2 linked regions of the Homo sapiens genome follow. The protein of the gene in region 2 interacts with the protein of the main gene of each other region in a pairwise test. Each region holds a gene or a part of one and is shown on either strand. Other genes may lie near its edges.

Evidence for each region.
Region 1: the proteins of SH2D4A (region 2) and CADPS interact in a two-hybrid assay, tested with the Homo sapiens proteins (one large-scale study listed by BioGRID).

The regions. Positions count from the first base shown.
Region 1 is NC_000003.12:62,397,848-62,400,632, forward strand, and holds the end of CADPS (calcium-dependent secretion activator 1), read right to left. Parts: intron 1,739-2,785; coding exon 1,559-1,738; 3' UTR 501-1,558; downstream 1-500.
Region 2 is NC_000008.11:19,319,880-19,323,914, reverse strand, and holds part of SH2D4A (SH2 domain-containing protein 4A), read right to left. Parts: intron 1-4,035. UniProt on the Homo sapiens protein: Inhibits estrogen-induced cell proliferation by competing with PLCG for binding to ESR1, blocking the effect of estrogen on PLCG and repressing estrogen-induced proliferation. May play a role in T-cell development and function.

The sequences.
Region 1 (2,785 bases), on a different chromosome or scaffold from region 2:
TTAATTTCTTACAAACCTAGGTGATTATATTGCTGACAGGGCCTGAGGAGCAAGTAGACTACTCCATATCTTAGGGAATCTTTTAAAATGCTTTAACAAATATATAAGAATCATATATAATTGGCACACACTTTGTTTGAATGCAAACACTGCTGTTAAAGTGGTGCTTAAAAACAGTTTGTTGGCCTTCTCTTCGTACAGGAGAAACATTTCTCTCGTTTACACTACTTACTTGCTTAGCAAACCCTTATTTATCCTATAATGCAAGTGTAATCTGTCCAACATGTCCAAATGCCCACGGGTTCTGAATTAGTGGAGTCTGAATTAACGGAATTTTAGGCAGTCTCTCATGGAGAACTACGAGCATTTGAAAACGACCCACTCCAACAGTTTCAAGAACACTCTACAAAAATTACCTCTTCCCTCCCCTTTCCTATTTCTTCTTGTTGTGTTTCAGTTCTGGCATTCAAAGTAGACAGAGGAAGACAGACCCAAACGTATATTCTTAGGACATCTGAATATTTATTGAGAAGCCACAGTTTTCCACACTTCCATAACTGTAGGCTTTATATAAGGCAAAAGCAAGATGGATCCACTACTTTACATGGAAAGAAATAGCTCTGCAGCAAACCCCAGGGTTGTGCAGTTACAGATCAAAATGCAATGTACATGACAGATATAAAAAACAGTGTGGAACAAAATAATTTAAATTATGGTTACAATCTACTGAAGGAAATATCCACATCTTATTATAAACACATTTTTAGTCTAGGGTTGTAATTTAAATATTCATTTTTTTTACATACACAGTTGAGACGTAAAAGCAAAATAACATTTAAGAGGAGAAAACTTTGACAGAAGACAGTAGTTTTGAACTGCGCGCTTGATGTTAAGTCATGATAGGATCGCCCCCTTGCCGTGGCAATTAAGAGAATCAATCCATTGGTATGTAGCCATCCTTTTTTTTTTGGCTAATTATATGAGTAAATGAAAGGATGGGTTAACAACGACACAAGGGGTTCATTTTTTGGTTTTAGGGGAACAGAAAGCATCAAAAGTTAATTGTTGGAGACTTGCCTTTTGTTTTTCAAAAAATAAAAATAAAAACACAAAGCAGATCTATGTGTTTTAATTAATTTATTTACGTACTCATTTAATTAACTGGCATCCACATACGTGAAACAGAGTGAATGTACTTGATGTACTTGCCCTCACATCCATTTACCACCAATGCATACATAGTACATGAATGAAGCATCATTGATCTTTGCTGATAACAGGGACACGCCTAGTGGTTAGACTATGTATTCTCCATGAACAGTATTTAAAGAATGGTGCTCCATATTGCTTGTAAACATATAGACATGGACATCAGGAAATCAGTGGATATGAAGGTCATTTGCTAATCTTGGTACCACATAGCTAAAATGGCAGTTGTATTGATAAACATCTCATGGGCATGGTAGTTGACAGAAAATTCCTAATGGGTTTAACTAACAGACTAAGGACATGCACTGATTACAGGACTCTGTCCCAGCAGACTCTAGGACCAAATGGTCTAATCGTCTTCTTCGTCTTCCTCATCGCTGTCCTTCATGCTGATGCCCTGCAGTCCCCCACCTTCACTCACTGATGCTGTGGCTTCCTCCACAGTGAGACGGTTCCGGATCGTTTCATAGGTCTTGCTGTTTAAGGTGGAGTCCAGGACCCCTTGCAATCGGAAATCTCTGTAGGTTTTCTAAGGAAGGAAAAGATACAGTGATAAGAGAGATCTCATCTCCATGATGGGGAGGGAGAAGGTAAAAGCAGGTGTGGGTGGGAGAGCACTGACCTTCAGCTAAATATCACACTTTATGCATTGTCAAATAAAAAGCCACTGTGCTTAGATTTCACTTGTATTGAAAACTGAGATCCTTTGAATGACAGAAAATGAGAAATAGTGACAGGATAAACTATATTAGATGAGACAAAGCAAAGAACATAAGCTTGTGTTTATTCAGTTCCATAAAGGGAAATGTTCCATAATTGTTTTGGTTCCTTTTTGTGGACTGGTTCTTTCTCTTAGGTTAGTGTAATGTAATATGATAGACACAGGAAGGGGCTATAATATATAAATAATGGATTGAGTGATTATGGTATTTTGTGATTTCTGTTGCAGTCTTGTTTTAGTATTTTTGAGTCTTGTAACTGCATAAGCTGTACTGATATCCCTCTGTCTCATTCATAAGACAGACATATGTATGTTGGTATATGAAACCTATTACAGGCAGTGGCAATTATGAGAAAGATGGAGCGCTAATGCCTCATCAATATGTTGCAGACATGTGACTCATTTCTTCTCTCCTTGGGAAAGAACTGTATCTATTCTGTTCACAACTTTATGGTCTCAGGGAAGAAATTTGGCTCTTTTTCAAGAACAATGGCTTGGTATTACTGCACCACAAGTTCTTTCTTTGTTCCTTCAGGCAGTTTCTCTCAGATTTCCTTAGGTATCTCAAGGACTGTTTTTCTAGAAATCCTTCAGTGTTAATTGAATATGACCAGAAGCATCTGGCTGTTGTCTACTTTGTAATTTTTTTTTTGTTTTTTTAAAAGGTCTCTAACTACAACTCTCCTCATCACACTGCATATCATTTCAGCTACTGATTCTGCTGTTTGTTTCTCCTATTGATATAGGAAACTTGCTAAAGGGGCAAGACAAGGAATGCTAACATACGTCAACACCACTCCCATCATTCTTTCTTTTTTTTTTTCTTTTTTTTTTTTTTTCAAGATGGCATCTTGC
Region 2 (4,035 bases):
AATGAACGTCCCTGAGCTTGACTTTCCTCATCTGTGAAAAGTGAATAGCAACACACACTTCAGGCTTAGCTGTGATTATTTAGTGAGACAATATACTTAATCTCAATGCTCAGGGTCTGATACCCAGTTAAGCGTATTGAATGCTGGCTGGTGCTACCATTATAGCATGCAGAAATGTGTACCACATCCATAACTATCACTTTTCTAGTAGCCACATTAAAAAAATCAAAAGGAGGCCGGGTGCCCTGGCTCACACCTGTAATCCCAGCCCTTCGGAAGGCCGAGGCAGGTGGATCACCTAAGGTCAGGAATTTGAGACCAGCCTAGCCAACATGGTGAAACCCCATCTCTACTAATAATACAAAAATTAGCTGGGTGTGCTGGCGCACACCTGTAACTCCAACTACTTGGGAGGCTGAGAAAGGAGAATCGCTAGAATTTAGGAGGCAGAGGTTGCAGTGAGCTGAGATCATGCCTCTGTACTCCAACCTGGGAGACAGAGCAAGAGACTCTGTCTCAAAAAAAAAAAAAAATCAAAAGGAACAGGTGAAATTAAGTATTTTACTTTACCCAAGATATACAAAATATCATCAGTTCCATATATAAGGAATATACAATTATTAATGTGGCATTATCTTTTCCTTCTACCAAGTCTTTGAAATCCGGTAGTTTACATGTATAGCACACCTCAATCCAGACTAGCCTCATTTCCTGTGCTCAAGAGCCACATGTGGCTTGTGGTGACTGCACTGGACGGTGCGGCTGTAGACCTCTAGCTACCCCAGCAAGCAGAGTAGATCCATACGTCTCTCCCTAAGTATCACATTCTCCCACTACAGAAATCAGAAATGATCTTCTCATATAGTACTAAGTTAAATTCACATGCTGATAGTTTTTCAGCCCCTTCTACTTCAGCCTTCAGATTACTAACAAGTAGACAAGTCGGGCACGGTGGGTCATGCGTGTAATCCCAGCACTTTGGGAGGCGGAGGTGGGTGGATCACTTGAGGTCAGGAGTTCAAGACCAGGCTGGCCAACATGGTGAAACCCTGTCTCTACTGAAAATACAAAAATTAGCTGGGCATGGTAGCAGGTGCTTATAATCCCAGCTAGTCACTCAGGAGGCTGAGGCAGGAGAATCGCTTGAACCTGGGAGGCAGAGGTTGCAGTGAGTTGAAATGTCACACCACTGCACTGCAGCTAGGGAGACAGAGGTTGCAGTGAGTTGAAATCTCACACCACTGCACTGCAGCTTGGGAGACAGAGCAAGACTCTGTCTTTAAAAAAAAAAAAAAAAAAAAAGAATAATAGACAAGTTTCTGTGATGCACAATACACAACAATTTTAGTGATGATCCCCAAACACTAAGCACAGGGGTCTGTGTATTCGTAGTGAAAAATGACCAGATGACAATGAAGGAACTTCTAAGTGATAAGCTAGAGGGGGTCAAGGAATGGCAGGGGTGGCCTATGATGTTTTTAATGAAATGAACAACCTTCAAAACCACCGTGTGGCTAAGAACTGCTAAGAAAAAGCAGCACTTAGCTCAGTACTAACCAGAAAGGCGGGAGAAGGGGAGGCAGGGAGCACAAGCCTTCAGGGATCAGATGCACGAGTGACCTGTCAACCCACAAGGGTCATGGGCTTAGCAGGTCTGCAGCACAGATAAGCACCTCTGGCAGCACCAGCCATGACAGCATTGCTTTGGACGGTCTATGGCTTTATCTTCAAAGACAGCGCAAGATGAAAGAGAAGTGATGGGATTTTAGGGGAAGTGGGAGTAACTTTTTCCCTTTCTGTAGTCAGAAGAGGAACTAATTTAATGCAAAATATATTTTTCCAAGTTTTCAATTTAAGGGAGTAATACACTTTTGACGTGAGATATTGATAGAACTTTCCCCACTTATATTAACATACTTTTCTCATGATCATTTGACTAACAAAGTTAACACAGGGTTTCTGAGAGGTAGATTCAAAACCCTACAAGCGAGAAATGTAAGCAAAGAAACTGAAATTATTATTTTAAGTCATCACAAGGAGACCAATTCAGCAAACACGAGAAACCCAAAGTCTAACAGAGTCTGGGCCATTGACTCTAGTGGCAAGAACCCTTTGGCTGCTAGTCCCCAAGGTCACCCCATCACACTAATATATGTTATGTTCACAGTGAACATGGTGCCCAGAAGAGACCCAATTATATCTGAAAAACTCTGACTGGGGAATCCAAGAAGGTGCATAAACCAGTTTAGAAAGAAAAAGAGTTATGTTTCAGTTTGGCCATGTTATTTGTTGGAGGAAAAGTTGTATTTTGGATAGTGCAGAATAATGTAAAATCCAACAGAACTGGGCATCTATTGGTGGTATAACCTTGCATATATTACTCAACTTATCTAAGTTTCATGGCCAGCTTCAGTGGCTCAGGCCTGTAATCCCAGCACTTTGGGAGGCCCAGGTGGGCAGATCGTTTGAGGTCTGGGGTTCAAGACCAGCCTGGCCAACATGGAGAAACCCCACCTCTACTAAAAATTCAAAAATTAGCTGGGTGTGGTGGCACATGCCTGTAATCCCAGCTACTTGGGAGGCTGAGGCAGGAGAATTGCTTGAACCCGGGAGACGAAGGTTGCATTGAGCCAAGATTGTACCACTGCACTCCAACCAGGGCGACAGAGTGAGACTCCATCTCAAACAAACAAACAAGCAAAAAAAAAAATGAACTTCTCTAAGTCTCATCATCTGTAAAACAGGACTGTCACTGCTGACTTTGCAGAAGTTTTGTGAAGGTTAGGCATTATATGCATAAATGTGCTTCACATAGTGTCTGAAACAGGAGGTGTTTCATAAATAGTTGTATTGATCATAACAAGAGGAAATGACATATTTCTGTTTATTTCCTTGTCATGATAAAGGCATCACTGGAAAAAAGTTTTAATAAAAGACAGTAAAAAGTAAAGGACGCTACACTGACCTCCTTTGTGAACCTGGGCATATACCAGGGATGCAAGAGAGATTCATTTTCTCAATCTTTGAAACCATATGTGATTTTACAAAATTTTATTTTCCTGGTTTAATGAAACATGAAAAGAGACGGTCTTAGATGCCTCTGCAAGTGACCTTGAAAAGTGTGCTGTGTTTTCACAACTTTGGTATTCACCCATGACAGACTTCGCATGTAAACAGCAAGGCGGGGGTGTGGGGGTTAGTGAGAACGGAGTGAGGAGGGTGGACAATGTGTATTTTTCTGTGTCTGTATGTGTATATGCTTTAAGTCTTTTTTTTTTTTTTTTTTTTTTTGACACACAGTCTCACTCTGTCACCCAGGGTGGAGTGCAGAGGTGTGATTTCAGTTCAGTGTGGCCTCGATCTCCTGAGCTCAAGCAATTACACCACCTCAGCCTCCCAAGTAGTTGGGACTATAGGCATGTACCACCATGCCCAGCTAATTTTTTATTTTTCCTAAAGAAAAGGTCTCACTATATTTCCAGGCTGGTCAGAACTCCTGGACTCAAGTGATCCTCCTACCTCGGCCACCCAAAGTGCTGCAATGACAGGCATGAGCCACTGCACCTTGTCTGCTTTAAGTCTTAATGTACAAAGATTTCCTCCCCCATGGTCTCAAAAGAACCCTCTCAAACTACCAGAGATTCCTTTGATAACGAGGAAAAGTTTACATCTGAGAAACTCATTCACACTAAAAAAAGATAGTATTATGATTTTTTTCCTTATAGCAATTCCTTACATTTTAACAGGAGGTGTTCCCTAAAAAGATACCTCAAAGAAAAATCTCTGAGGTCTAAGAAATGCAAACACAATTGCTATAAATATACTGACACAAGAACTTTGTGTTCTAGTAGTAGCATATTAGGAACCAGTAACAATAAAGGAGATAGAAACCTTTCTTAATACCCCTCAAATCAAACCTCATAGGTGACTTTTTAATACAGCTTCAGGTTAGTCTGGTTTCAAGTAAAAGATTTCCTCATAGCTATGCAACTCCATGGTGAATGCTGTGTGTGTGTGTGTAGACTTCAGGTGGAC